Regions from separate parts of the Homo sapiens genome. Here regions 2, 3 and 4 are each reported to be linked to region 1. Evidence: microRNA targets listed by miRTarBase, many of them from high-throughput screens and not tested one by one. Region 1 holds a microRNA gene; each other region holds the end of a gene's coding sequence.
Evidence for each region. The annotated mature microRNA hsa-miR-3163 reads UAUAAAAUGAGGGCAGUAAGAC and lies in region 1 at 4,225-4,246, shown strand. An mRNA with a match to its seed (bases 2 to 7 or 8) in the 3' UTR can be bound and repressed. Matches are read on the target gene's strand: a 7mer-m8 pairs with bases 2 to 8, a 7mer-A1 pairs with bases 2 to 7 and ends in A, and an 8mer does both.

Region 1 (7,991 bases):
AAAAATATATATTATAAAACAGAATGTATAATATCTCATTTTTTGTTATTTTGGAATGCTATACCAACAATTTGTTCAGGTTGCTGGAGTTACAAAATTATGTGTTTAAAAAATTTTCTATATAGTATTTTTTTCTTTATAGGATGTTTTAATTTTAAGTTATCAATTTAAAAAATCTAATTAGAGAAGGGTGCAATTCATAACACTACTTGGGGCTTACGGTCGAGTACTAGGTACTTAAATATCAGAGTTTGACTCTTTTACCCCTCTTTTCCAAAAAATTGTTTTGGGGGATGAAAACCTCTTTCTAAATGCCATATGAGATATAGATTGCTGGGGAGTGGTGGAGTGAGGACTTCATAAATGCTGTTCCTCCATTTAAAGGAATGAGAAAACTGGCAAAAATGATTAAAACCAACTTTTTCAGAACTCGAGAAATTAACCAAAGGCTTGCAACAATCTAAGACACATTTATTCAGGAAAAATCGCAGAAAAAAGTTATTCTTGTTTTCAACAAAAAGTTATGAGGCATGCAAAGAAACAAGAAAGTATGGTTCATACACAGGAAAGACACAGTCTTTTCCAGCCTAGATGTTGGACTTCATAGACAATGATGTTAAATCAACTATTTTAAATTTGTCTAAAGAACTTAAGGAAAATGTGAGAAGAGTGTCTCACCAAATAGAGGGAGGCCAAGGCAGGTGGATCACGAGGTCGAGAGATCGAGACCATCCTGGCTAACACAGTGAAACCCCGTCTCTACTAAAAATACAAAAAATTAGCTGAGTGTGGTGGCACGCACCTGTAGTCCCAGCTACTCAGGAGGCTGAGGCAGGAGAATCGCTTGAACCTGGGAGGTGGAGATTGCAGTGAGCTGAGATGGCATCACTGTACTCCAGCCTAGGCAACAGAGCAAGACTCAGTCTCAAAAAAAAAAAAAACAAAAAAAACCCAGAAATTCTGGAGTTGAACTGTGTAGTTACTGACATGAAAAATTCACTAGAGGCTGAACAGCAGATTTGAGCAGGCAGAAAAAAATCAGCAAGCTTGAAGATGGTACCTTGAGATTTTTCAGGCTAATGAAAAAAGAATGAAGGAAAATTAACAGCCTCAGAGACCCATGGTGCACCGTCACACAAATCAACATATGCATCATGAGAGTCCCAGAAGGAGAGGAGAGAAAGGGTCAGAAAGAATGGCCACAAGCTGATGAAAAACAGTAACCTACCCACTCAGGAAGCTCAGTGAACTCCAATGAGGATGAATATCAGAGATCCACACCTAGATATTTCATAATCAAAGTGTCAAATGACAAAGAATCTTGAAAGCAGCAAGAGATGAGCAACTTATCTTGTTCAAAGGATCTTTGATCAGATTAACAGCTCATTTCTCCTCAGAAATCATGGGAGCCAGGAGATAGTGGGATGAACACTGTTGAAGGCAAAACCTTCAACTGTAATTATTGGACTTTTGAGTCTTAGATGGTCCTGACCTCTTTGTCTTCAGGGACAGTTTTTCAATTTAATCCCTAATAACAATTAGTCAAGCTTCCTTGACCTGTAGGAAGGCCTGTCTTTAGGCCGGGCACAGTGGCTTACACCTGTAATCCCAGCACTTTGGGAGGCCCAGACGGGTGGATCATTTGAGGTCAGAAGTTCGAGACCAGCCTGACCAACATGGCGAAACCCCCATCTCTACCAAAAATACAAAAATTAGCCAGGCGTGGTGGTGCATACCTGTAGTCCCAGCTACTTAGGGGGCTGAGGCACGAGAATCGTTGCTTGAACTTGGGAGGCGGAGGTTGCAGTGAGCCAAGATCGCGCCACTGCATTCCAGCCTGGGAGCCTGGGTGACAGAGCAAGACTCCATCTTAAAAAAAAAAGAAGACCTATCTTTTATAGAGTTCCCTTCCCCAAGTTTTTCTACAAATACCCAGGGATGCTTATGTGTTCCACCAAGTTTGGAACATAGTTAGGGAGTGAAAAACATAGGTTAAATGAATGTCATCTGTCTGGCTTGGTTATTTCCTTGGCCAGCTGTTCTCTTCTGTATGTTGCCTAGTTCTCCCTGCCTCAGGGCTGTTGCTTCACCCTTCATACCATATTGCCTTAAATACACAAACGACCTGTCAGGCATTTCACAACATTTTACTGAATGCTTGGAGATAGCAGAATGGAATTACAATACAGAAAAAGATGTTTTGCTCACAAAGGGGAATTTACCCTTTACCTCAAGAAAAATAGAGCAATTGCCAATAACAATATTGGTGGCCTCTCCCCTGCCCATTAACCATCAAGACGTCAGCAAATACTGGGGTCTAATCTCAACTAGTGTTACTCCAGGACACCATATGGAGCTGACTGCTGATGTTCTGTTCTTGATAATATCCCTTATGTGTGTGTAGCACTTTATAGTTTTTTTATTTCATTTTTTTCTTTTTTTCTCTCCCCCCCCACCTTTTTTTTGTGTGTGTGTGTGACAGGGTCTTGCTCTGTCACGAGGCTGGAGTACAGTGGCACCATCCAAGCTCACTGTAGCCTCCACCTCCTGGGCTCAAGCAATGCTCCCACCTCAGCCTCCCAAGTAGCTGAGACTACAGGCATGTGCCACCACACCCAGCTGATTTTTTTTTTTTTTTTTTTTGAGACAGGGTCTCACTCTGTCACTCATGCTGGAGTGCAGTGGTGCAATCACAGCTCACTGCAGCCTCAACTTCCAAGGCTCAAATGATCCTCCCACCTGAGCCTCCTGAGTAGCTGGGACTACAGGCATGTGCCACCATGCCTGGCTAGTTTTTGTATTTTTTGTAAAGACTGTGTTGCCCAGGCTGGTCTCAAACTTCTGAGCTCAAGCGATCCTCCTGCCTCGGCCTCCTGAAGTGCTGGGATTACAGGCATGAGCTACAGCACTTGGCTAGTTTTATTTTATCAACCAGTTTTCCCTGGAACTGGTTATGGTTGTGGTTTTGCTGCTTATGGATGACAGACCCGAGGTTCAGAGAGGTTCAGTGTCTCTCTCAGCTTCACTAGGAAGAGTTATAGCCAAGCTCTGACAGCAGCAAACCAGATTCTGGCCTGAGGTTCTCAGAATATGCTGCCGTTCCACAGGATGTTGCAATATGGTGTGGCAGGGTGTTACAGTGCACAGGGCTGAAAAGACCAACCTGAGACCCTCCCCTTTCCTTCTGAAGTTATCACTTCATGGACGTTTGCAGCTTTTATCATAAGAGCCATTTGTTGTCGCATGGCTTGTGGCCAACTGGGAGTCTACCTCCATCTAAGGCAGGGCTCTTCTCCCTGCCATGTTGCCCAAGGCTGTTTCAGTAAGACTGTAAGGTTTTCTTCAGCCCTCCTGGCTTTTGACTGCCCCATTCCAACTGGTTGCAAAATAGCTATTTGTGTTTTTGCTGACCTGAGCCATCTTTCTGTCCATTTATACTTCTGATATTCTTACGTGGCAATCAGTATCTAGCAGAATGAATGCCCCATTTTCTAATCCTGCGTTTTCTCAGTTGACTGAGTGGCTTAAGGAGGACAAGTTATTACTGGGCAGTACTCCAAGAAATGGTTCTTTCCTTCAGCATTTACTGTGCATCTGTGCTATGCACAGCTCCTTACTGGATGCTGTGAGGCCACAGGAGGATCTGACAAGGTGGCCTTGCCCTGAGTTGTTTATCCGTGGTTGGGAGAGAGGGAATGCACGTGCTGGACAAAATACATGCTTGCATAGTGACTGGCTAGCGTGGAAGAGTAGTAATGACCTCATTGATCCTGCTTCTGTGCCAGGTGAGATGCTAAATGCATAAACATACACAGGGGGCTGGGCGCGGTTGTTCACACCTGTAATCCCAGCACTTTGGGAGGCCGAGGCGGGTGGATCACCTGAGGTCAAGAGTTCGAGACCAGCCTGACCAACATGGTGAAACCTCATCTCTACTAAAATACAAAAAATTAGCTGGGTGTGGTGGGAGGCTGAGGTAGGAAAATCACTTGAACCCAGGAGGTAGAGGTTGCAGTGAGCCAAGATCGTGCCATTGCACCCCAGCCTGGGCAACAGAGTGAGACTGTATCTCAAAAACAAAAACAAAACACACATAGGGAATTACCGGGGAGTGGCATAGCAGAGTTGAGAGCATGGACCCTGGAGTCAGGCGGACAGGATGGAGTTCAGGCTTAGCCCTGATCAGCAAGTTCCTTAGCTTCTTCAAGCCTTGGTTTCCTCATCTATAAAATGAGGGCAGTAAGACCTTCCTTCCTTGTCTTACTACCCCCATTTTATAGATGAGGAAACCAACCAGTGGGGGCTGTTGGGTAGAGATCAAATGCAATAACTTTTGTACAAATGAAATAACACACGTTCATTCTGTACAAATGAAATAACACATAAACAAATGAAATCACACAGTCATGTGCCTGACACTTGGACACACCGTAATGGTGGCTCTGTTAATGGGACCAGTGATGAACAGTTAGAAGTGAACCCCTTGAGGGTAGAATATGTGAATCCGAGGCCCTGCAAGATGAGGGGACTCTCTCAGGTGGGTGGAGGAGCTGGTCCTCGCATGTGTGATATTTGAGTTCGTAGGAGGCGGGTGCCCCCGGACAGTGGCAATGGGAGTGAGGCCAGGTGATGAGACAGAGGGTGATGCCCCAGCCTCGCTGGCGTGGAGGAAGGCAGTGGGAAGCCGGCAAGGGTGGAGGTTGTGCCTGCATTGATCACTGTGGAATCCTCAGGGCCTAGCACTTGGGAAGCAATGTTGGAGTGTGCTGGTGGGGCGTAGTGAGCATTAGGGCTGGAAGTTCATTCTGTGAACCCCAGCTGCGTGTTGGGATTTGAGACAATAAGAAGCCCCTGAGATGCTTGAGCCAGGACTACCCAGAGGTGAATGGGATTTTTGGAAAACCTCTGGGCGGAGTGGGTGGCTGCCTGGGAATGGGGAGAGGCAGAGGTTGGGTGGGGACTAGCTCAGCAGGGAATGTAACTCAGACATTCCGGAATGATGCAAGTGGAGGTTAGGGAAGTGGTTGCAATGGGAAGGAGGTGGCAAATATAAAGTGTCACAGAAGAAAAGTTGTCATGGGGCCAAGTGGAGGGAGGGATTGGAGAGCTCTAAATTGCAGCTCAATCTTCATCTTGAAATGCAGGATGGAAAAAGCCACCCCATTTATTTAGCTAAAGGGAGCTGACTCCAAGACCTGAGGTCGGGGAAAAGTGGAGAGACAAATAGAAAAGAAATAGGGAATTGGGACAGGGCACCATCTTTCGGGATGGTGGGCTTTTAAGCCCAACTCAGCATTTCCTGAGAAAATTGAGATAGCTTGAGACCAGAGCAATAAGCGTTGAGACTTACCCGGAGAAAATGTTACCCAGAGAGGAGAAAGGGCTGGTAGGGCCTGAAGATTCTTGAGCTGATTTTCCCCAGTTCTTGCCTCTTAGTGCCTCCCATTTCTCCTCATCTGACGGTTTCTGGGTGAGACAGTTGCATCTCATCTGTGGTAGGCTGCCTACTGCTTGGTGAGCCTGGGCTGAAGGGCTGAGGCCTCTGGAAGAGCTGTCAGGAGAGAGACACCTTCAGGGTACTTGGAGCTTTCGCCTTGCTTCCAGGGCGGGATAGGTGGAAGCTGAAACTGCCTCCTAGCAAACAGATTTACACTGATCAAAACAAAGTATTTGTAGGTGTTAGAGTTAAGAGGTTGAGGTTTTCCGTTGGATTTTTTAGGTGCATGGTGGAAGAGGTATTTTAGACGAAGGATTCTCCTAGCAGACACAAAATATGAATTAAGAACACTTGTTTCTGTTTTTCTCCCAACTACTTCTTGATATTCATAGTTCCTGGTGCTGGGACTTTGGAATGGGTTTTGGTGTGCAGAAAAGACAGGGCATTTGCTGCCAACAGGGGACATAATTGAGACTAAATTCACAAGATAAGGGATGGTATGATTTACCTTCCAAGAAAAGATCTGTGTCTGGTCCTGTATCTGGCTTCTTTCTTTATTGCTTTTGCAGTTCTGAATCAGTTTTCTTTCCCCGATGGCTAGCTTCTCCAGCTGGAGAGAACACACAGTTTAAAGAGGCTTTCCCCCCAGGGCCAGATTAAGGATACTTCTGGGCTAAAGGGCAAATGCAGCCATTCCTAGCAGATTTATGGCCCCGAAAGGACATTTCGGCCACTGCATCTGCGAGATTTTTGTCCCACATCAGCTAGCCCAGCAGCGTAAGCCCAAGGGTTTAGTCATTGACAGAGTCCAACCAAGGGGTCTCTGTGGAACCCTGGGCTTGAATGGGCTGGAGTTCTACCCTCCCATTGAAATCATTTGAGATGGTAGAGTGCCTTCCATGCTGAAAACAGGTCTCATGTAACAGTTACTGATGGGGCCAAGGAAGCCCAGGTATGACCTAGGTAACTCCTCAGAGATGCTACTGTTGAACCTAATAGTCTTCTAGCAGGTTACCAAGCGGTAATCCAAAGAGTTAGTGTTTAACTTAAAAAAAAAGGTATTCAGTTTAGCTATGTAATACTTGCACCTTGTACAAACATTGAAATGTATGAGTCTCCTTTTTCCTCTCTCCCCAGTAACCCAGTCCCCTCCCAGGAGGCCACTTCCGGTTAAATTATCTTGTCTGTCCTCTTGGAGGTGGTCTGCCCTTTGAAATAGAAACATATTTCCTTTTTTCTTTTTCTTTTTCTTTTTTTTTTTTTTTTGAGACAGAGTCTCGCTCTGTCGCCCAGGCTGGAGTGCAGTGGCGTGATCTTGTCTCACTGCAAGCTCCGCCTCCCGGGTTCACGCCATTCTCCTGCCTCAGCCTCCTGAGTAGCTGGGACTACAGGCAACTGCCACTATGCCCGGCTAATGTTTTTTGTATTTTTAGTAGAGATGGGGTTTCACCGTGTTAGCCAGGATGGTCTCTATCTCCTGATCTTGTGATCCACCTGCCTTGGCCTCCCAAAGTGCTGGGATTACAGGCGTGAGCCACTGCGCCCGGCTACAGAAACATATATCTATTGTTTGTTTCTCCTGTGCCCTTTCTGCTCCATGCCCTTTTCATTTATCAGTGTATCTTGGAAATCGTCCGATGTCAGCACAAATAAAAAGTCTGCAGTACTCTGTGTGCCATTGCATGTTTTTTTTTCTTCATTTTGCCATTTGTTTATTGCAAAATCCCACACTTAACAGAAGACATGTTTAAAACATATGAGTATGTTAAAACAAAATAGTAAAATGAACATCTATGTTCCCATCCCTAGGTTAAGGTTAGGACCATATAAGCCCCCTATGTTCCCTCCCCGGTTGAAGTCCCTTCCCTCAGCTATTCCTTTTTTTTTTTTTTTTTTTTTTCTTGAGATGGAATCTTGCCACTCTGCTGTCCAGGGTGGAGTGCAGTGGTGCCATCTCGGCCCACTGCAACCCCTGCCTCCTGGGTTCAAGTGATTCTCCTGCCTCAGCCTCCTGAGTAGCTGGGACTACAGGTGTGTGCCACCATGCCCGGCTAATTTTTGTATTTTTAGTAGAGACGAAGTTTCACCATGTTGGCCAGGCTGGTCTTGAACCCCTGACCTCAGGTGATCCGCCCACCTCAGCCTCCCAAAGTGCTGGGATGACAGATGTAAGCCACCACACCTGGCACCCCAGCTATTCTGAATTTTGTGATATTTATTCTCTTGTTCTTGTTAGTTTTCCCACCGATAGCCAACCTCTGAATAACTTATTGTTGAATTTTGCCTGGTTTTGAACACCTGGACATGGAATCCTACAGTAGATTTCTGTGACTTGCTCAGCATTACATTTGTGATTCGTCCATGTGGATGCACATGGCTCTGTTCATGTTCACTGCCGTAGAGCTTTCCATTGAATGAATATCCACAGTGTGTTGATCCTTTCTGTTGCCCTGTTGCCAAGAAGGCCTTGGTCTGCCTTTTGTTTTTTTTCCTCTCTCAGGAATAACCCTGCTGGGAACTTTTTTTTTTTTTTTTTTTTTTTTAAGACAGAGTC
Region 2 (7,991 bases), not on the chromosome of region 1:
ATGTCTGCTACAGTGGTATCTGGTGATAGAGTTGAGACCCTTGGGAGTTTAGTCCTTAGAATTTTCCTTTCCTTTGGGCAGTCTTAAGAAAGTTAAATTTTACAAAGTATCTCTTGAAAGAGCATTGGCTGTGGTCTAAGAGTAGAATTAAATGTAGCAATTTTATTATCTTTGGGGCAAAGGATTCTACCAGTGTTTAAAAACTCATTTTAAAGAAATATAATAATTTTGACATAAGCCTAATCAGCTGAGTGAGGTGGCTCATGCCTGTAATCCCAGTACTTTGGGAGGCCGAGGTGGGAGGGGATCACTTGAACCCAGGAGTTTGAGACCACCCTGGGCAACATGGGGAAACCCCGTCTCTACAAAAAAATACAAAAATTAGCCAGGTGTGATGGCACATGCCTGTGGTCTCAGCTACTTAGGAGACTGAGGTGGGAAGGATCGGTTGAGCCTGGGAGGTTGAAGCTACAGTGAGCCATGATCGTGCCACTGCATTCCTGCCTGGGAGACAGCAAGACCTTGTCTCAAAAAAAATTCTCCTCTCTAACTTCTGTCTTTCTAAACATGGAAGATGTATTTGAACATCTAGAGAGGAGCTGTTATAAAATAAAACACTTTAAAAATTAATTGCTCAGACCCAAGTATACATTATCCATTTTCTTTTTTCGAGATGGAGTTTCGCTCTTGTTGCCCAGGCTGGAGTGCAGTGGGGCAATCTTGGCTCACCGCAACCTCTGCCTCCCAGGTTCAAGCAATTCTCCTGCCTCAGCCTCCCGAGTAGCTGGGATTACAGGCATGCGTCCCCACACCTGGCTAATTTTGTATTTTTAGTAGAGTTTCTCCATGTTGGTCAGGCTGGTCTTGAACTCCTGACCTCAGGTGATCCATCCACCTCAACCTCCCAAAGTGCTGGGATTACAGACGTGAGCCACCGCATCCAGCCTCCATTTTCTTATTTAAGACTTACTGACTTGTCTAAGATCTCTTCCTGCTAAGTTATTTCAATGATATCTTCTTATAGGATTCTTATGGGAATTTTAGTAGTTTCATTGCAGATCAATAATGGGACCACGTTTTGGGGGAGTGAAGGGTGGGGAGCTGGGAATAAGACTATACATAATCAGAATTTTTGATTTTGCAGATTGCTCTAGAGACATGTTCTGATTTCAGTTGAGCTATTTCAGTTCCATATTTTTGAAGCTGATCCTTCGTTTCAGCCAAAATAGTAGATACAAATCAATGACGTTGTTAAACCTTTTTCTGAATTATTTTATTGCTTTGTAATTTACAAGATTCTTGACATTAGTGGTAGTGTTCACATTTAAGCTGTTATAACAGCCTTCTAATGGTAGACTTTTCTAAGTTTTATTAATTGAAAATGCCCACAAAATGATTATTTTACTGATTCACTTGTAATTCCCCCTTCCTTTGACAGGATATCTATAGAGAAATGGGGTTTGGTCACTATGAAGAAGAAGAAAGCTGTTGGGAGAAACAAAAGAGTGAAAAGAGAGACCGAACTCAGAACCGAAGTCGTAGCCGATCTCGAGAGAGGGATGGCCATTATAGTAATAGTCATAAATCAAAATACCAAACAGATCTTTATGAAAGAGAAAGGAGTAAAAAGAGAGACCGAAGCAGAAGTCCAAAGAAGTCCAAAGATAAAGAAAAATCTAAGTATAGATGAAAGATGAAGAGGCAGAATTGAGAGGCTAACATATTTACTCTTGTCTAACTTAAGAGTGCCAGGAAAGCAGATGCTTAGATTTTGTGTCAAAGCTTGTTATTTTTTTCATACTAGGATTATGGTCTTTAGATTAATACTGATTATATAGAGCACGGAAAGATAAAGAATTGAACATTTTCTTTGTATACTTTTTTACACTAATTTTATTGTTATACATAAATGGTAGTCTTCATTTTTGAAGTCTTACATTTTCACTCTTTTTTTAATGAAGTATTTCATACTACAAAAATACATAAACGTATATATAAAGGGATAATAAATGTAAATATCTGTGTACTCATCAGCCAGCTTAAGATACAGATGTTGTCGACATTTTAGAAGTTCCCTAAGGCCCTCTCCCTCTCAAATAATTATTTGGAATTTTGTGTTTGTCATTTGTCTATTATAGTTTTACAACATACGTATGTATCTGTAAGTGAAATGTTAATTTTGTATGTTTCTGAATTTTATATAAATGGCAAAATGTTTACTTCTGTGACTTTCTTTCATTTTTATTGCTATATAGTATTATATAAATATACTACAACTTATTCATTCTTGATGGACATTTGAGTTTTGTTTATTTGTTTTTGCTGTTGAAACAATGCTGCTGTGAACATTGTATCTAGCAGTTATATTGCTTGATATATTGATAAAATAATGCCAAATTTGTGTTCTGAAGTGACTGTACTAGTTTATACCTCTCTTGGCACTGTGAGTTACCTTTGTTTCATAGCATCTCCAACACTTAAGTTCAGACTTAAAAATTTGCCAACCTAGTGGATGTTAAGTGGTATCTACCTGTGATTTCCAGCAAGATTACTGTTATCTCTGCTCTTCCATGTGTAAGATGTCATTTTTTTCCTGGCTGCTTTTAAGGTTTTCTGTCACTGGTTGTAAGAAGTTTGATTATGATGTGCTTGCTGTAGTTTTTTTTTCACGTTTCTGCTGCTGCAGCTATTTTACCTGTGGGTTTATGGTTTTCATAGAATTTGGAAATTGGGGGGCATTTTTTCTTCTGTTATGGTTTTCTCTCTGCTCCTCTCATGCTTCTCCTGGGGCTCTGATGACTTGGATGTACGTTAGGCCCCTCAGAATTTTCTCCCAGTGTGCTGATTCTGTGCAGCTTTTTAAAAAGCCTTTTTCTCTCTGTGTTTCATGTTGGGTACTTTCCAGTGCTGTGTCCTCATTGTTTATTAATCTTTCTGTCTAAAGTATCTAATTTCCTTTTAATCGTATCCAGGTATTTTTCACCTCCGACATATTTTTAGTCTTTAGAATTTCTGTCTGGGTCTTTATCTCCCATGTGTCTCCTTCACATGCTCATGCCTTCCTCTATTTTTTTTTTTTTCAACATCTGGAGTGTATTGATAATAGCTCTTTCAGTGTGCTTGCCCATTCTGTCATCTGCATCATTTCTGGTCTGTTTCTATTGATTGATTCCCACCCTACCCCAACCCCCACCCTGCCCATATTGGATTGTAACTTCCTTCATTACATGCCTGGTAATTTCTGTTTTTAATATTGGGTGCTGGAGTTCTTTTAAGTATCTTGAACTCTGTTTGGGGACATAAAGTTACTTGGAAACAATCCGATCATTTTATAGCTTGCTTTTAAGCTTAATAAGACAGGACTGGGACAGCCTTTAGTTTAGGGCTAATTTGACCCACTACGAAGGTAATACCGTTCTGAATAATCTTCCTGGTTACACGGTTTCTGCATTCTGTCTGTTGGGAACATGAAATATTCTGAACCCTATTGAGCTCCCAGTTGTATCTCCTGTTCCTTACCTCACATGCATACACTGCTTGGTGTTTAGCTGAAGACTTAAGGGAAACCCAATATTCTGCCCTGCAAATCTTACCTTGGCTCCCCTAAATTCTCTACCCAGGGAGGTTCCCTTCCCTAGCCTTAGTGCCACAGCTTAGAAACCCCATGTAGAAGCTTGCGCAATTATAGGGCTTTCTTTGTTTTCCATCTCTCAGGAGTCACTGTCCTGCACTGGCTTTTGTCTAACATCTGAAAAACTTCCTTGTATACATTTTATATAGGTTTTAATTTAAGGTGGAGAAGGTAAATCGTGCCTCTGCTACTCCATTTTGACTAGAGTGGAAGTTAACTTTGTATTTCCTAAATGTTAATGAGGCTGAGCATCTTTTCCCATGTTTATTATTCATTCCTTATTGCTCTCTGAAAAGCTTGTTTCATGTCTTTTGCCCATTTATATAGTAGTAGATTGTTGTCTTTTTATACTTAATAGATTGTGGATACTAAGAATAAGTTAAGGAGTGCTGTCTCTCTCTCCTTCCCTCTGTCTGTTCTCTTGGAAGAAAAGAAAAACATTTAAATTAATCTGTTCCTTAAAAGCTGGATAGAGCTTGCCTATAAAATTGTCTGAACTTTGCATTTTTTTGTGAGAAAATTTCTTAACTATTGATTAGGTTTCAAAAATTATAGAATTATTAGCCTTTCTATTTCTTTAATGTTAGTCATTTTTATTACATTTTTCTGGGAATTTGTTTTCATTGACGTTTTTATTTTTTGATAGCATTGCGCATAGTTTAGCTAGATTTTTCTATCCTGCTTTGTTGATGAATGTCCTTATGTTTTAGTGTGTCTCATAAACAGCATATAGCTAGATGATGATGATGATGATTATTATTACTATTTTGAGACGGAGTCTCACTCTGTCACCCAGGCTGGAGTGCAGTGGCGCAATCTCAGCTTACTGCAACCTCCACCTCCTGGGTTCAAGCGATTCTACTGCCTCAGCCTCCTGAGTAGCTGGGACTACAGGTGCTTGCCACCAGGCCTGGCTAATTTTTTTTTCTTTTTTTTAGTAACAGGGTTTTCACCATATTGGCCAGGCTGGTCTGGAACTCCTGACCTTCTGATCTGCCCACCTCAGCCTCCCAAAGTGCTGGGGTTACAGGTATGAGCCACTGCACCCGGCCAATTATTTTTAAATCTAATCTGAACTTTAACTGGTTAGTTGAGTGCATTTTTATGTGTACTGATGTATTTGCATTTATTCCTTACCACCTTATTTTGTGCTTTTTATGTTTTTTTCTTCCACTCTTTTTTTTTCTTTTGGAATCAAAAATGTTTTTTAATTCCACCCTCACCCCTCTGCCCCCTCTTCTTTGTTTTGGGGGAATTTCCTTGGAATATTACATCCGTACTTAAAAAGTATAATGTTATATCTTTATCTTCCTCTCTAATTGAGAGTCTTGGAACTCTCCAAGTCACCCCTCTTGCAACTTTCGTGTTAAAATCATTCAGTATTTTAGTTATAGCTTGTGATTTTTCACCTTAAAATTAGACCTTGAGCTGGACTCAGTGGTGCACACCTGTAGTTCTGGCTCCTGAATGGCTGAGGCCGGAGGATCCCTTGAGGCCAGGAGTTAGAGGCTGCAGTGCACTGCGATTGTGCCTGTGACTAGCCTCTGTACTCCAGCCTGGGCAACATAGTGAGACACCATCTGTTAGAAAAAAAATTAGACCTTGTGATTATTACTGTTTTTGTACAGATAATTGTTGGTTTAGATTTACTTTATATGTTAGAAGTGTTTGTTTATTCATTATTATTCTCACATCTCAGACCTTTCACCTAGGATAATTTTCCTTCTTTCTGAAGCACATCTTTTGATGTTCCTCTAGTGACATCTGTTGATGGCAAACTCTTAGTTTACATTTATCAAAAGTATTTTCAATTCATTCTATAAAGTTGATTTTATATGTACATAATTCTAAGTTGAGGTGTGTCTTTTTTTCCCCCAGTACTTTGAAGAATTAGTCTACTATCTTTTTACTTTTGTTACTACTGGGGAGAAATCTTTTGTCATTCCAAATGTCATTCTTTTGGATATAATGTGACTTTTCTTTCTGATTGCTTTTTTGCTGTGGTTAAACTTTCAATTTTGAAATCAGTTGTAGATTGGCATGCAATCATAAGAAATAATACAGAGAGAACCTGTGTACCCTTTGCCTAGTTTCTTCCAGTGATACCATCTTGTAAGATTCTAGTATGGTATCACAACCAAGATGCTGACATGGACACAGTGGAGATACAGAAAATTTCCATCACTACAAGGACCCCTCTTGCTGTCCTTTTATAGCCACGTCTACTTCCCTGCCACTTCTGTTTTCTCCTTCACCTCTGTCAACCACTGATATGTTCTCCATTCCTATAATTATGTCATTTCAAGGATTTTATATAAGTGGAATTCTGTATTATGTAGCCTTTTGGGGAGCCACTCATAATCCGGAAATACATAATCCCAAATGCCATGATCATGAAGGTTGAAACCCTGATAATCATAATCCCAAATATGTAATTCTGGAAAGAATAATTTTAAAAACCTTTAAAAGATATTTATTTACATTTTGTTTGTTTGTTTGTTTTGAGATGGAGTCTTACTCTGTTGCCCAGGCTGTAGTGCAGTGGCACAGTCTCAGCTCACTGCAACATCTACCTCCCAGGTTCGAGTGATTCTCCTGCCTCAGCCTCCCAAGTAGCTGGGACTACAGGTGTGCGCCACCATGCCCGGCTAATTTTTGTATTTTTAGTAGAGATGGGGTTTCACCATGTTGGCCAGGCTGGTCTCAAACCCCTGACTTCAGGTTATTAACTTTTTTTTTTTTTTTTTTTTTTTTGAGATGGAGTCTTGCTCTGTCACCCAGGCTGGAGTGCAGTGGCACGATCTTGGCTCACTGCAAGCTCTGCCTCCCGGGTTCACGCCATTCTCCTGCCTCAGCCTCCCGAGTAGCTGGGACTACAGGCACCCGCCACCATGCCCAGCTAATTTTTTTTGTATTTTTAGTAGAGACGGGGTTTCACTGTGTTAGCCAGGATGGTCTCGATCTCCTGACCTCGTGATCTGCCTGCTTCAGCCTCCCAAAGTGCTGGGATTACAGGCATGAGCCACTGCACCTGGCTGATTATTCACATTTTTAAAAGAGGATTTGAGAAATACAAACACAGGCCACTTTACACAATAAAATAGGCAACAATAACATACGTATGTTTGCAAGCATAAGCAGTTCTCAGCTCTACTAATGACAGTCACATGGGTATGACAGTTATGAACAGATGAGTGGTATTTATAAAGAAATAGGTCAAAAAGGGAAATGTATCAATGCATAGCCCTGTGGTTGGTAATTGTGTATGCTCAGCTTTATAACTGCAGTCATTTGAAATACTTTAAGAACAACCAGTGTCTTCCACTGGCTTCACTCAGATGCTAATCTCTGGAAACACTTGCACAGACACACTCAAAACACTAATAAGTTTCTAGGTGTTCCTTAATCCAATCAACTTGACACCTAAAATTAAGTCCCAAAGAACACCTCTTATCAACTCAGCACCCATACATACCTCCTTAAACCGTACTTAATTTCCAAATAAAGACAATGAGAAAGTTGTAGTTCTACCTATCATGATGCCAGTATCCTCTGATTGTGATTTTTGGGATTTTAGACATTATGGATTTTAGATTAGGCATTTTGATCTTTTGGGATTTCACCATTCAGGATTAAGGTGTTCGAGATTGTGTCTTACAGGATTATAAACCAAATCCCTTTTTGGGATTGGGTTTGTTTTGCCCCAGTCAGCCTTATTCTTCAGAGATTCTTCCAGTTTGTTGCTGTATCAATAGTTCACTTTTATTTTATTTTGTTTTATTTATTTATTTGGGATGGAGTCTCGTTGCCCAGGCTGGAGTGCAGTGGCGCCATCTCAGCTCACTGCAGCCTCTGCCTCCTGGGTTCAAGCAATTCTTCTGCCTCGGTCTCCCTAGTAGCTGGGATTACAGGCGCACACCACTATGCCTGGCTAATTTTTGTATTTTTAGTAGAGACGGAGTGTCGCCATGTTGGCCAGGCTGGTCTCGAACTCCTGACCTCAGGTGATCCACCCGCCTCAGCCTCCCAAAGTGCTAGGATTACAGGTGTGAGCCACTGTACCTGGCCAATAGTTCACTTTTATTGTTGAGTAGTATTTCATGGTATGAATATACTGTAGTTTGTTTAACCATTCACCCATTGAAGGACATCTGGGTTGTTTACAGTTTGGGACCGTAATGAGTAAAGCTGCTGTTAGTTTCTTTGTGAACACAGTCTTCATTTCTTCTGGATAACTGCCCAGTAGTGCAGTTGTTAGGTCATATGATAATTGCATATTTAAAGAAACTGCTGAACTGTTTTCCTGGGTGAGTCAGACTGCTTTACATTCCCACCAAGAACATATGGGCGATCCACTTCA
Region 3 (7,991 bases), not on the chromosome of region 1:
TTTGTAGGACAGATTTGCTGATGGTATTATTCTCATTTGATATCTATTTTTTTCATGACTTTGACTATATCACACACTTCTTTTCTTGCCTGCAAAATTTTCTTGACAAATTCACTGGTTATTTAAAAAGACTATGCTTGTAAATGACATATCATTTTTATACTGCAACTCACAAGATTCTCTTCTTGTCTGTGACTTTTGAAATTGTGTTTATATATGTGTTTGTTATAAATATCATTGTGTGTATCCTAATTTGTTGAGCTTCTTCATTTGTACATAACTTTTTTTTTTTTTAACTTTTAGGATTTTTTAGTTATTTATTTTTGTATTTTGCTTATGTAGTTTGTGTAATTTTATAAATTTGATATGTAAAATATATTCATCTGAGTCTAGGAAGTGGTGTAATTTGTTACTTTTATGTCTTTCAGTTATATATTCTCATTTCACTGAAGACCTTTGGCCAGAGCATAGCATAAAAGATTCTTTTCAAAAAGTGATACTGAGAGGATATGGAAAATGTGGACATGAGAATTTACAATTAAGAATAAGTTGTAAAAGTGTGGATGAGTCTAAGGTGTTCAAAGAAGGTTATAATGAACTTAACCAATGTTTGAGAACTACCCAGAGCAAAATATTTCAATGTGATAAATACGTGAAAGTCTTTCATAAATTTTCAAATTCAAACAGTCATAAGAAAAGAAATACTGGAAAGAAGGTTTTCAAATGTAAAGAATGTGGCAAATCATTTTGCATGCTTTCACATCTAACACAACATATAAGAATTCACACTAGAGAGAATTCTTACAAATGTGAGGAATGTGGCAAAGTTCTTAACTGGTTCTCAGAGCTTATTAAACATAAGGGAATTCATATGGGAGAGAAACCCTACAAATGTGAGGAATGTGGCAAAGCCTTTAACCAATCCTCAACCCTTATTAAACATAAGAAAATTCATATTGAAGAGAAACCCTTCAAATGTGAAGAATGTGGCAAAGCCTTTAGTTTATTCTCAATCCTTAGTAAACATAAGATAATTCATACTGGAGACAAACCTTACAAATGTGATGAATGTCACAAAGCCTTTAACTGGTTTGCAACCCTTACTAACCATAAGAGAATTCATACTGGAGAGAAACCCTTCAAATGTGAAGAATGTGGCAAAGACTTTAACCAGTTTTCAAACCTTACTAAACATAAGAAAATTCATACTGGAGAGAAACCCTACAAATGTGAAGAATGTGGCAAAGCTTTTAACCAGTTTGCAAACCTTACTAGACATAAGAAAATTCATACTGGAGAGAAATCCTACAAATGTGAAGAATGCGGCAAAGCTTTTATACAGTCCTCAAACCTTACTGAACATATGAGAATTCATACTGGAGAGAAACCCTACAAATGTGAAGAATGTGGCAAAGCTTTTAATGGGTGCTCCAGCCTTACTCGACATAAGAGAATTCACACTAGAGAGAATACCTACAAATGTGAAGAATGTGGCAAAGGCTTTACTTTATTTTCAACCCTTACTAACCATAAAGTAATTCATACTGGAGAGAAATCCTACAAATGTGATGAATGTGGCAATGTTTTTAACTGGCCTGCAACTCTTGCTAATCATAAGAGAATTCATGCTAGAGAGAAACCCTACAAATGTGAAGAATGTGGCAAAGCTTTTAACCGGTCCTCACACCTTACTAGACATAAGAAAATTCATACTGGTGAGAAACTCTACAAACCTGAAAAATGTGACAATAATTTTGATAACACCTAAAACTTTTCTAAACATAAAAGACACCATCCTGTTGAGAAACCCTAAAAATGTGAAGAATTTGACAAAGCCTTCCAATGATTGTTACACTTGCTTGTAGGTAAGATAATTTATATTGGAGAAAACTTTATAAGTGTAAAGAATGTGACAAAACTTAACCAATACTCACATCTTATTGCACAGGAAAGCATTTTTACTTGAGAAAGATTGTACAAGTATAAAGAATGTGAAAAAGTCATTGATATCTTTTCACATCTTACTCAACACCAGAGTTTATACTTATTAAAAGCATTATAAATGCAATTACTGTCAAAAGAAATTTCAGAAAACATAACACTTTAAAGTGAAGAAGCGTGTTTATTTTGAAGACAAACATAACAAATATAAGGAGCATAGGAGGGTTGTAGTACCTTTACTTGTATTACAAATCTTATTGTACGCATTTTGTACTAGAGAAAAACACTGAAGCAGTTGCTCAAACTTTGTTCAACATCAGGGAATTTATATTGGAGAAAAATCCTGCAAATGTAATGAATTTGGAAAAACATTTTTTTTCAAAAACTACGGCGTAGAAAACATGAATTTATATTGAAATGTGTTTTTGCAGATGCAGTAAGTATGAAAAATATTTAATCCAAAATTGAGTCTATGTAAATATTAAATAATTTACAGTAGAAATAACTAAGGCACTGACACTTTAGACATTACACTAAAACAGAGTGTTGAGTATAAAAAAATCTATAAGTTGTTAGATTATTTGTAAATAACTTTAAAAGGAGTAGAAGATTCTTTGGAGAGTTATAATTACATTGAAAGTATACTTTTTTTCTTGAAAAAATTATGGCTTATTTGAAAAGTAAATAATGATGAAATTCAACTCTCAAATTACTTTATTTCATTCCTATTGTATTCACATGTGAAAGCATGTGATAAATTGTTGCTGTGTCAGATATAGGAGAGATTCTTTTTTATTAGATGGGCATTATTTATGGTTTTTTCTGTGGAAGAGTATGGGCATTAAAATGTAAGGTTTATGATGAAAATCTAAGTGGAGAGGCCCTGTTAGTTTACTTTTCATATTGAGTGATGCATGAGGTAGGTGTTTGGAGTAATATTCTGCATCATAGAGAAAAGCATTTTTAATTTTACTTTAAATTAAATGTAATTAAATTACTAGTGAATCATTTTACTAATTGTACTTTTATGCTATAAATGCAGTACATTTGAAAATTTTTAGATTATGTATAAGCTTAATTTTATAATTAAACATTTCTTTAACATGTTAAGACTATTGTGCATTCAATGAAGCGTTATTATGCCATTAACTTTAACCTTTTTCACTTTACTCAAGGAGGGAGGTAAAAGAGAGTAACAATATGTTATTTGGTCATGAGATGTTAATCTTTCTGTGCCTGGCTTATTTCAACTAATATGCTGTCCTCCAGATTAACTGATGTGATCAAAAATAATAAAATTTTCTTTTAGATTCCACATAGCAAAAGCAAGAGTAAGAGAAAAGAACAAATCTGGAGGCATCACATTACCTGACTTTAAACTATACTATAAAGCTTTAGTCATCGAAACAGCATGGTGCTGGTATACAAATAGGCACATAGACTATAAACGTGTGTGCAAGTATCTTTTTTCATATAATGCCTTTTTTTCCTCTGGATAGATACCCAGTAGTGGGATTGCTAGATCAAATGATAGATCAACTTTTAGTTCTTTAAAAAAATCTCCACACTATTTTTCATAATGGTGCTAATTTACATTCACACCAGAAGTGTAAAATTGTTCCCTTTGCACCACATCCCCACCAACACTATATTTTTTTATTTTTTAATTATGGCCATTCTTGCAGGAGTGAGGTGGTATCATATTGTGATTTTCATTTGCATTACTCTGATAATTAGAGATGTTGAGCAAGTTTCCATATGTTTCTTGGCCATTCGTATATCTTCTTTTGAGAATTGTCTATTCATATCCTTAGCCTACTTTTAAATGAGATTGTTTTTATTTCTTGCTGGTTTATATGAGTTTTTTGTAGATTCTGGATCTTAGTCCTTTGACAGATGTATAGATTGTGAATATTTTATCTCACTCTGTGGGTTGTCTGTTAACTCTGCTGATTATTTTTGCTCTGCAGAAGCTTTGTAGTTTAATTAAGCCCCATCTGTTTATATTTGTTTTCGTTGCATTTACTTTTGGGTTCTTATTCATGAAGTCTTTGCCTAAGCAAATGTCTAGAAACGTTTTTCCAATGTTATCTTCTAGAATTTTTACTGTTTTAGGTCTTAGATTTATGTCTTATGTCTATCTTGAGTTTATTTTTGTATAAGTTGTGAGATGAGTTTCCAGTTTTATTCTTCTACATGTGGCTTGCTAAACATCCCTCCATTATTTGTTCAATAGGGTTTCCTTTCCCCACTTCATGTTTTTGTTTGCTTTGTCAAAAATCTGTTGGCTGTAAGTATTTGGTTTTATTTCTGGGTTCTCTATTCTGTTCCATTGGTCTATATGCCTATTTTTATATCAGTACCATGCTGTTTTTGTGACTATGGCTTTATAGTATAAAGTTATGTAAACTTTAGGATTGTCTTTTCTCATTCTGTGAAGAATGATGTTGCTATTTTGATGGGAGCTACATTGTATTTCTAGATTGCTTTTGGCAATGTAGTCATTTTCACAATAGTGATTCTACCAATCCATGAGTATGGGATGTGTTTCCATTCGTTTGTGTCGTCCGTGATTTCTTTTAGCAGTGTTTTGTGGTTTTCCTTGTAGAGGTCTTTCATGTCATTGTTTAGGTATATTTTTAAGTATTTTTTTTCCAGCTATTGTAAAAAAAAGTTGCATTCTTGATTTAATTCTCAACCCAGTCACTGTTGGTGTATAGCAGAGTGACTGATTTGTGTACATAAATTTTGTATCTAGAAATTTTGCTGAATTCACTTGTCAGTTCTGGGAGATTTTTGGAGGAGTCTTTATGGTTCTTTAGGTATACAATCATATCATCAACAAATAGTGACAGCTTAAATTCCTCTTTGGATGCCCTTTATTTCTTTCTCCTATTTGAGTGCTCTGGCTAGGACTTCAGTGCTATGTTAAATAAAAATGGTGAAAGTACACATCCTGGTGTTGTTCCTGTTTTCAGAGAGAATGCTTTCAACTTTACCCTGTTCAGTGTTATGTAGGCTGTGTGTTTGACATAGATGGCTTTTATTACATTGAGATATGTCCTTTGTATGCAGATTTTGCTGAGGGTTTTAATTATAAAGGAATGCCGGATTGTGTCAAATGCTTTTTCTGTGTTTATTGAGATGATCATTGTTCATAATTCTGTTTATTGGTGTATCACATTTATTGACTTGTATATGTTAAATCATCCCTGCATCCCTGATACAAAACCCACTTGATCATAGTGGATTACCTTTTTGATATGTTGTTGGATTCAGTTAGATTTTTTTTTTTAAAGGATTTTAGCCTCTGTGTTCATTAGGTCAGTCTGTAGTCTTCTTTTTTGGCTATGTCCTTTTCTGGTTTTGGTATTAGGGTGATGCTGGCTTCATACAATGAATTATGGAGGTTCCCTCTTACCGTGTCGTGTGGAATAGTGTCAATAGGATTGGTACCAATTTTCCTTTTAATGTTGGGTAGAATTCTGCTGTGAGTCTGTCTGGTCTTGGACTTCTTTTGTTGTTAATTTTTTAAATTACGATTTTAATCTCACTGCTTGTTATTGGTCTGTTCAGGGTTTCTGATTTTTCCCGATTTAAGCTAGGAGGGTTGTACATTTGCAGGAATTAATTTATCTCCTCTAGATTTTTGTGTTTATGTGTGTAAAGGTGTTCATAGTAGCCTTGAATGATCTTTTGTATTTCTGTGATGTCAGTTGTAATATTTCCTGTTTTGTTTCTAATTAAGCTTAATTGAATATTCTCTCTTTTTTTCTTAATCTTGCTAATGGTCCATCAATGTTATTTATCCTTTAAAAAACCAGGTTTATGTTTCATTTGTCTTTTTTTCTTTTTAATCTTATTTAGTTCTGCACTGAGCTAGGTTGTTTCCTTTCTTCTGCTGGGTTTGGGTTTGGTTTGTTCTTGTTTCTCTAGTTCCTTGAGGTGTGACCTTAGTATATTGTGCTCTTTCAGACTTTTTGATGTAGACATTTAAAGCTATGGACTTTCCTCTTAGCACGGCCTTTGCTGTATCTCAGAGGTTTTGATAGGTTTTGTCACTATATCATTCCATTAAAATTTTTAAATATTTTTTGTCTTGATTTTATTGCTGACCCAATGATCATTCAGAAGCAGTTTATTTAATTTCCATGTATTTGAATGGTTTTAAAGGTTTTTGTTGTTAACTTTCAATTTTATTCCACTGTGGTCAGAGAAAGTACTTGATATCATTTCAATTTTCTTAAATTTATTGAGACTTGTTTTTTGGCCTATCATATGTTCTGTCTTGGAGAAAGTTTCACGTCCTGATTAATAAAATGCATAGTTTGTGGTTTTTGGCTAGAATGTTCTGTAAACAGCTGTTAAGCCCATTTGTTCCAGGGTGTAGTTTAAATCCGTTTTTTCTTTATTGACTTTCTATCTTGATGACCTGTCTAGTACTGTCAGTGGAGTATTGAAGTCCCCCACTATTATTATGTTTCTGTCTATTTAATTTCTTAGGTCTAATAGTTATTGTTTTATAAATTTGGGAGCTTATAAAGCCCCATTTTCCATTTTTACAGTTTGGGCACTCAGAATATTTGGGCTGTCTCCCAGGTCCTACAGGAGCTATTTGCTTCCTTTAAAGGGACTGTGAATTATCCTGCCTTTCCTGGTATATTCCTAGAGTAGTTCTATGTAGTTTTAGCAATGCAACAAGATTTAACAGGTTTTCTTTTGTTTGAGATAACACTTAGAGTTTTTTGTTTTATTTTTATGAAAATTAAAAAGTACGAACACAAAAGTGAGGTTGGAGTGAAAGTTTAATAAGCAAAAGAAGAAAGCTTTTTGCTAGCAGAGAGGGGTTTCTGAGTAGGAGTTCCCCCTGTGAGGCTGGGGTTCAGGGTTATTATGGACTAGGAATAAAAAGAAATGTGCTTAGTTTGTGGGCTGTTTTGGAGATCTTGTGACTTAGCTTGGCCTGGGACTAATTAGAAAGCTTGGGCTGAGATCTTGGCCCAGGACCAATTAGAAGCTGAAATGATGATATATAGATGCTGCTTAGCTTGGCCCAGGACCTATTAGAAGCTGAAGTGAAAGCTTGGCCTGGGACCTTGGCCTGGGACCAATTAGGGTCTGAAATGATGATTTATAGGAGCCGCTGTATAGTTTAAATAAAGGTGAGTGCCCACTGGAGCCCACTGTGTTTATGCCCACAAAAGGAGAAGAAACTTTTTGTGGAGCCCTCTGATTATATAAAGGATAAAGGCATTTTATACCAGGCCTTGTTTTTTATTTGAGTGAGCTAGAGGTTTGTGCAAGTTTTTATGTAAATAGGCTGGAGGGTTTTTTTATTTGTGCAGTTGTGGGCATGTTTTTAGGCACAATACTTTGTGCCTGTTTTTTTATTGGTGCCTGCAGCTTGAATTTTTTTTTCCAGGCTGCATTTTACATTATATGGGGTGGAGGCAATGACTCATGGGCTGGGGACTTTTCAGAGACCTTTCTGTTGCTATTTACCTAAGGCAAGCAAACTTCTTTCAGTCTCCACTCAGGAGTGGAAACCCTAACTATTTTTATAGAGATTAGGCATTGGATTTTTTTGGACTGCTTTTTGCTTGAAAGGGGCATTGTGTAGGGAACAGTAGCTAGGATTTTTTAGGGGGGGGTGCTAGTTTAAGGGTTTTTGGAAGAGGTGCACATTTATGTGTGTGTGTATGTGTGTGTGTTGCACTGATGCAAACAACTATATTGTTGTAAGTCAAGAATAATTTAACTAGTTTTTAGATTTTAGAGGAGCTAGGCTGAGAGAAAGAAATGCATTTTAAATTTTATTTACAGGAGTGTACCTTGCTTGTTAAAAGGTTTTAAGAAATTCTTACTTACTTTGAAAAGCAAAATAAAGATTAGCAATTTGTGTGTGGGTGTGTCTGTGTGTGTGTGTGTGTGTGTGTGTGTGTGTGTGACAGAGTTTTGCTCTTGTTGCCCAGGCTGGAGTGCAATGGCGCGATCTTGGCTCACTGCAACCTCCGCCTCCTGGGTTCAAGCGATTCTCCTGCCTCAACCTC
Region 4 (7,991 bases), not on the chromosome of region 1:
AGTATTCACTGGAAAAATTAGATGAATATGTGGAATATTCAAACTATTTATGGTTTTCAGTGTAATTTCAGACTCAGAAATGTATCTTTTTATAAATATTTTGGTACTTCTACTTGACACAAAGTAAATTTACAAATTTTTCTACTTTGTAAGAAAAAGGATTCCTGCATGTTGATGTGAGGTACAAACGCCATTAAAGAAATCTACAACTGAACCAGGAATGAAGAACGGAACAAAATTCTTAACCATTCGGTTTTCAATGACAGCATTATGATTTTGTTTGCTCTGTGGTTTTGTTTGTTGAGATTTTGAATGTAGTTTCCCATTAATATTAAAGAATGAGAATGATTTTGGAAACTCATTCCAAAATCATTGTATTTTGGAAACAAGAAATATGTGTGAGGGGCTGGGCGTGGTGGCTCACGCCTGTAATCCCAGCACTGTGGGAGGCCGAAGTGGGCAGATCATGAGGTGAGGAGAATGGGACCATCCTGGCCAACATGGTGAAACTCCGTCTCTACTAAAAATACAAAAAAAAAATTAGCTGGGTGTGGTGGCACGCGCCTGTAATCCCAGCTACTTGGGAGGCTGAGGCAGGAGAATCTCTTGAACCTGGTAGGTAGAGATTGCAGTGAGCCAAGATTGTGCCACTGCACTCCAGCCTGGGTGACAGAGCAAGACTCCATCTCAAAAAAAAAAGAAAAGAAATATATGTGAAGAAAAGTTGCCAATTTGTACTTACTGATATCTTCAGAGAACTCATTTTTAAGAAAAACTTTAATAAAAGGTAAAGAATGTTTAAGCTCGTAAGCTGTTCTTTATTTTTATTCATAGGTAACCTCAGTCTCTTGTTTAAGTCAGTAACTTATTTAGTGGTGTCTTCTTTCTTAAGGTCAGCCACACCCTTAGAAAAATTACCAATGAAAGTTGAAAAATTGCTCCCTTAATTGTAGCATTAGTTCAAGAATTTTTTTGAAAGAATAGTGCCATATGTATTAAAGAGATTTTTGAGGAACAAAAAAACACAGTCAAAAATTTGAGGGCAATATACTACTACTGATTTTACTCTAGAAATGAACCAAATTATTTTTAGTTGCTGTAGAGGTACTCCACTAAATCTGTAAACATGTTTTTTTGTTTTGTTTTGTTTTTTGCGTCTGCAGCGCAAATCCAGAAAAACCCTGTGCATCATCATTCTTATCCTTGTCATTGGAGTTGCGATTATCAGTCTCATCATATGGGGATTGAACCACTGAAGTTATAAAGGAGCACACTGTCGCACTACATTGTCTAAATTATGTAGGAAGATTCCTGTAATCATGTTTTTTTAATTATTATTTTAAAGCTATTGTATAAAGGATGGTTCCCATACTTTGTTATTTTTATTGGGGGGGTTGGGGTGGTTCCTTTGGATTAAATCTGATATTTTCTAATACTGAAAGATTTTCTAAATGTCACTGCTGACATAACTCCCTTGGTCTTCAATTTAATAGTTGTTAAGTTTTTGCCCACATTGCATATGCCTTTCATTTATAATTTATTTACCCTGCTTGACTTAGTTTTGGGAATTCGTAAATTTAAAGGTGTGTGTATTCTGTTTGCATCTCCCTGTCACTGTGACACACCTAGATGTGTGTTACTTCAATTAAAATTCTCAAATTTAATTTTGATTTGCTTCAGCAGGGAAAATATTCTCAATAATGTAAAATAATTAAGGTCTATACATGGGTTGTATTTTTCTGGTTCACAACAGCACAAAGTGTCTTTCATTTTTTTGTTGGTTTTCTTTTAAGATCTTTTTTACCCTGAAGTCGGTGAATACTTTTCTAGTTTATTTGATACTCTTTCTGTGTATATATTAAGCTTTTGCTGTAGATTGCCTAGTAAAATTACTAAGGATAGGTTGTTTTTACATATGGTCTATTTAAGTCTGATGTTTACGGGGGAAAGTGTAGTTACTAAAAATGTTTAACATAATTTGGAAGAAGAGTATGAACAACCAATACCAATACCTATTGCGTTTGGATTCTTAAGACCCCAGTTTGTTATTCCACTAAACTAGTTATCTTAACCATATCATCTGGTTTTGTGGGCCATTATTTACCTTCCCTTATGTCTTATAGAATAATGGTTAATATTTTTAGGTCAAAATTACTTTTGGAAAGTAACTTTCCCACAATTAACTGTTTTTGAGCACCTGACAAAATTTAGTGTTTACCTTGCGTGCCATTTTGTGTCATCCTTCATTAAAAAAGCAATTGGAGGTTTGCCAGTTATCTCACTTCCCTTTTTAAATCAATGTTGTTTTAATGCACTAATCTGAATTCTGTAAAGAGGATTATCTTAGTTTATACTTTGTATTTTATAATGTTCTTGTATAGCAGCTCGGTACTGAAGGCGGTGTTTAACTTGGCAAGCTCTGAGACTTCAAATGGGAACAAATAGTAAGTAGCTAAGTAAACCACATCTTTGCAACCAAAATAAAGATGAGTTAAAAGGTATCTGGTTAGGCCTATTTCATGAGGACTATGCTCTGGTGGGACCACAGGTCACCTGATACTTAGTGCTGTGCTGCCTGAAACCTCAGCATGGAGACATCACCACATGCACTGTGGCCATTCAGCATCTTTCTGGAGCACCAGTTCACTCCAGGTTTTTATTTTAGGGTGTCATCGATTTTACCTACTTTGTCAGACTGGTAGAAGTTGCTTTGCATATCAGAAAAACTCCATTTTTTTCCACAAAAGGGATTACAGAAAACTCTTTTGTGAGTGAGTGATTGGAACTTAGAGACTCCTGTTGCCAGAATCAGACTGCCCTAGAACAGAATGGACAATGCAGGGAGGAGAATTCACACAAACAGCACCTGTTCTGAGGCCTGTGCCAGCCCACCAGGCCTGCTCAAATGTGGTCTTTACTTCAAGTGCACAGAGGCACATGAGGTTTCTGGTGATAAACCAGCGTCTTACCGCTGTTTTAAAGTCCCATCCCCATGGCTTTCACAATCAGTTCCGTTTTTTTTGCTGTACTTGATAAAATGTTTATTCTCATACAGGTCAAGTACATTTACTTCTATTCACAGTGAGTACCCAATAACAACAAAAGCGCTTACAAATTTGGGGGGCGTGATTTTAGTACCTTTATTTGAAGTGTAATCATTTTAAATTATTATTATTTTAACTGGGGCAGTTATCAGTGGTTTAAACAGGAACTTTAGTGGCTTCAATTTGTTTAAGAAACATATTAAGTTTGAGGGAAAAATTTCCCATGAAATATTTGGAACGTAAGAGTAGTATTGATTAGAGAAAATTAAATAAGAAACATAGTATGGTAGCCAAATTTTTTAAAAAATCTTGAACTTTTCTGTAGGTCAGTTTTAGAACTGCTGTGAAAAGTGAAGGTTGCCCTGTGGAGATTAAAATTAGAGTTGTTTTCATAACTGACAGCATGGTGAATCCATTTGAGTCAAAGTGAAGAATTTCCTCATCAAGTGACTATACATTTGTTTTTGTGTGCTCAAAAGAAATACTCAAACACAGACTGATATTAACCAGCCAGGTAAATTGAACGACAATGTGGCATTAGGTATTTGGCTGTTTATTGGTCGTTAAATACTATGGTTTTGCAATATGATTGATGGTAAAAGAGTGATGTCATATTGATACTAGAGTAGCTTGTTTTTTTAGTAGGTGTGGGACCATCTCTTTTACAAGTGCAACTCAGTCTAGGACAGCCATGGATGCAGTGTCTGGAGTTGGACCCTCTGAGCCCGCTGGCTGCCCCAGTAGCATCTGCATTGGTGACCAAGGACACTGCACTTTGAAGAGGTCGCCACTGGGTTATTTAGTGTCTTCACTGCTTTTGTTAAAAATTGTAAAATTTTGTACACAAAAAGTTGTGTTTTTGAATATCAATTGTTTAGACACACCTACAATGATAAATAAGTGCCTTTAAAGGCCCCTCTTTCCATGAAATACATCTGTGGTTTAGCAAGGAAAGTACAAAATAGTTTATGTAGTTGGTATAATTTTTATTTGTGTCTTCATGTAGAAAAAATGAATGTCATAATAAAATATAAAACTTACGTAAAGAAAATAAAGTCATTGTCCACCTTAATAGCTAAGGTCCACAAGGGTAACTTATGCAGCATTTATTTTTTTTGAAAGTCAAAATTGAATTTATTTCTTTCACATGGCTGGTTTGCTGCAATATGAAGTTTCAGAATGGGCTGAAGTAAGTTGATTGAGGGATTTGAGTTGAATGACATTTTCAAGTTCATTTAAATATGATAAAAATTCATTGGTGGTAAATAACATCTGTCTTTCCTGGAAAAAAAAAAGTTGTGTATTTTCATGATTCAGTTAAAACAAAAAATGAGCCTGTGAATCCCAGGCCTTTTTAGTCCTCCATAACATTTGAACAGTTTGACTTGTCAGCAAAGAAATACACTTATCAAATTTTAAACCAATGGGAGCCTGAAAGTGTTACAGTGTACTGCTTCTTTGACAAAATTCTGTTTAACAACTACCCTAACATAATTTATAAATCAATTAAGATAAAACCATTTTTTTCTGAGTATTTAGGAATTTGTGTCCTCAAAATACTGTGACATGAAAGATAGGAAAGAAATTACCTGGTTGCCAGACATGCACGATTATCTTTCCTCATTTCAGCTGGATTTTCCAAAGTCAGTAGATTGGATAAAGCAGCATCTCATTCACTGAGGTCACAAGATAGGTAGGAAACTTCTTTAATGTGAATTTTGCATATTTTAACAATTCAGTTAGAAAAACAGAAACCACTTGATGGATTATAAGTGTAAAGTGTTTTAACATAGGGAATTAGACATCAAAAGGGTGGGTGAGGAAGGTGTCTGCGGCCCCAAAGTGGGTGGATCTCAGGAGCTGGCCCAGGCACTGCTGTGACTCTTGAGAACATCCAGAAGGCTGTGCTGTTGGCGTGCAGCACTGACAGTGTGTCTCAGGGAGCTGTCCCCAGCTGTCAGCTGTTAATAGCTCCAAAGCCAGTGCCTTGCAAGAGATTTTGAAACTGCTGTGAAACTCATGTCCTCTGCCCGCCTACACTTCTGTCTGCAGTGGCCTCTGAGGAAAGATGGTCTCTCCTTTTCTCATGGTCAACTCTCAACTTAGAACCAGAGACAGAAGGAGTTTGTGGGAAGTGTGGTTTCTGGTCTACCTGCACTGCAGAGGACATTCTAGAAAGAGAAGTGAGTTGACAGTCTAGCATAATTGTGAAACAAACACTGAGATGTACAGTTCAAACCACGTGAAGTGGAAGCCTCAGAATTTTCCTCACTTTCATTAAAGATTCTTTGATGGAAAAATTTAGAAGCATTGGCTCTAGATGGTAAGCAAGTCATTTTTTTCCAACCAAAATAAAAAATACATATACTAAGCTTCTGGGGCCCCAGGACTTAACACAGTTTCCTTCCTTCCTTCCCTTCTTCCTTCCCTCCCGTAGTAGTTGCTTAATAAATACTTAATTTGGCACTTATTTGGGGCCGGCTTTTTGCCAGGCTACTACATGCCTGGGCATAGTGTTCTAAGAGTGAACCAAAAGAATAAGCTTCCTGCCCTCAGGGAGTTTATGTTTTGTTATTTGGCATATAAAAAGAACTTGGTGTGTTAAAAGAAGGGAAATAGCTGTGTGAAAGGAATGAGGCAAGGAAGAAAGGGAATGTCTAAATATAAATCTCCGTTTGGACCAGCCTCCTGTTTATCCAGTTTTCCTTACTAAGTAACTGAATTTCATTTTCTTTTCTTAATTGACAGACTACCAGAAAATTGCTAGTTTTCTAAAGAGAAACTACTGATTTGAGTGATGATCTGTGTGTAATGGCTCCAAAAAGGAGCCGTTCTCTTGGTGGCAGCAGTTGGATTCAGAGCTTGGGCATCCTGATCATCAGGACAGACATTTACAGGATATGTATAGAATTACTGCCCCAAATAGAGGGCAAAGCACTAGACAGAAGGGTGAGATCCAAGGGGAATTTGGAATCTATATTTCATCAGAATGCACTCAAAGCAAAAACAGTAAGTATGCTCCATATAAAGAAATGTTTCTTAAAATGTTTTTAATTTAACCCTACCCATCCCTTGGCAAATCTTTTTCTTTTAAATCAAATAGGAATAAAGAAGAAAATCTTCCTATTGGCCCATTTTCTCATTATTCAAATACCATATCAATACACCAATTTTAATTCTTTGTTTTTGTAATCATTTGGTTAACATGAATATTATGTAATATTTTTCTCCAAATAATCCTAATTTTAAATGCAGAAATAGAGCTAAATAACACACTAAATAGGTTTTTGTAGACACTGTAGCTTCTGGCAAGTTTTTAAGAGGTTGGTCACTTAATTGCTTAGAGTGGGATTCCCGTAGGTTTTGTGTAGTGATGGCATTTATGCTTAAAATGTAAGTGGTGGAAGGCAAAACCAGATTTCCTGTCCAGTCGTTACACGCACAACACCTCTACTTGTTGACGAGGGAGTTTTCTAGAACTGAATTGAATCTTTAAATAAACTTGAAAGGGCATTAATTCCCACTTTGGCCAACCCAAAGTACAAATTTTTAAGTGTTTACTGTAAGTATCGTTAGGCAGTAGTTACTAACTCCAACACCTAATAGCATTGGTAGAAAGCTTATAAATGCAGTTATTTAGCCTCGACTAAGATTTTTCTGATACCTAGTTTCACTTTTTAATGCCCTCTGAAAGTTTTTTGATCAGTTGTTTAATGGGAGATCTGAAATGTTAAACTCAGACCAGAAAGAAGAGAACCTGTTTTCTAGAAATTAGGTTTTTAATCCAAGTAAGATGCAAGCTTTTGCTTTTTTAATAACTTGTATAGCTAAAAACTTGACGGTGAAAAGCTCTCAGATCAAAGCTGATCCTTCTGTCAGTAATGATTCTAAAAATAAGCAAGATTTTAATGGGGAATATATTTTATTTCATTCTTATCTCAAACCTAGGTACTGTGGTCGTTTTGAGTTCATTTCGAGGCATTTTCAATGTGCCTCAGGCCACATCCAACCTCTTCCCAGGGCCAGATTTAATGTTCAGCCTCATAAAGGTTATCATAGTTTTAACATTTAAGTACTATTTTGCAGTGGGTATATACCAAAATTTGCTAATAGTAAGATAACCTTAGTTATATATCATTCACGTTAGTTCTATCTTGGAGGCAATAAACATTTCTTGTTCAAGAAATTCATGTTCTATCTTGGAGGCAATAAACAAACATTTTTTGTTCAAAATTAGGGCTACCCTATTGTCCTTATGTCTTTTCCTGATCTGTGGTCAAACATTTTTCTTAGTCATTTAGAAATTTTCTATGTTGTTTTAAATTTTCTTTAAATCTAGAATGGAGTATGTGACCAATACTTTCCTTTGGAATGGTATGGACATTTGAAATAGAGCCCATTCTTTATAAAGTATAAAATATGTTTAATGCTAGTATTTTTAACTAAACTTTTGAGAAACTAGATTCACATGCTGTTGTAAGAAATAATACAGAGACCTCTTTCGTGTACCTTTCACTTTGTTTCCCACACAGTGAACATCTTTCAAAACTGTCATACAATATCATACCCAGGATACTGACACTGGTATAGCTAAGATAGAGAACGTTTCCACACAGAACTTTTTCTAGCACAGGGATCCCTCATCTTGCTTTTGATGACCATACCCACTTCACTCCCATCCCTACTCCCTTCTTAACCCTTGGCAACCATAATCTGTTCTCCATTTTTATAGTTTTTTTTTTTTTCATTTCAATAAAGCTGTATAACTGGAATCATAATAATATGTAACCTTTTGGGATTGGCTTTTTTTCATTTAGCATGATTTTCTGGAGGTTAATCCAGCTTATTATGTGTATCAAGTCTATTGACAGGTACTTTTTAGTGTGAATAGAATCCCATAGTATAGATGTACCACAGTTTGTTTAACTGTTCACCTGCTGAGAGACA

Region 2: miRTarBase lists PPIL4 as a target of hsa-miR-3163. Seed matches in the 3' UTR shown: 7mer-m8 at 1,891-1,897 and 8mer at 2,194-2,201.
Region 3: the mRNA of ZNF680 is a reported target of hsa-miR-3163. Seed matches in the 3' UTR shown: 8mer at 3,019-3,026.
Region 4: the mRNA of STX7 is a reported target of hsa-miR-3163. Seed matches in the 3' UTR shown: 8mer at 2,360-2,367, 7mer-m8 at 6,964-6,970 and 7mer-A1 at 7,769-7,775.

Annotation. Positions count from the first base shown.
Region 1 is chr11:66,930,731-66,938,721 of GRCh38, reverse strand. MIR3163 (microRNA 3163) reads left to right here and starts at 4,216; the gene lies at 4,216-4,288. The region is part of intron 3 of PC (pyruvate carboxylase); the gene reads left to right.
Region 2 is chr6:149,499,152-149,507,142 of GRCh38, reverse strand. PPIL4 (peptidylprolyl isomerase like 4) reads left to right here. Exons shown (of 13, transcript NM_139126.4): 13 at 1,439-2,648. The coding sequence ends at 1,690. Among named protein-coding and RNA genes, the nearest start is that of ZC3H12D, 18 kb to the right of the region's middle.
Region 3 is chr7:64,514,938-64,522,928 of GRCh38, reverse strand. It overlaps ZNF680 (zinc finger protein 680), which reads left to right. Exons shown (of 4, transcript NM_178558.5): 4 at 429-3,051. The coding sequence ends at 1,768. Among named protein-coding and RNA genes, the nearest start is that of ZNF680, 44 kb to the left of the region's middle.
Region 4 is chr6:132,454,023-132,462,013 of GRCh38, reverse strand. STX7 (syntaxin 7) reads left to right here. Exons shown (of 10, transcript NM_003569.3): 10 at 1,164-7,991. The coding sequence ends at 1,256. Among named protein-coding and RNA genes, the nearest start is that of STX7, 55 kb to the left of the region's middle.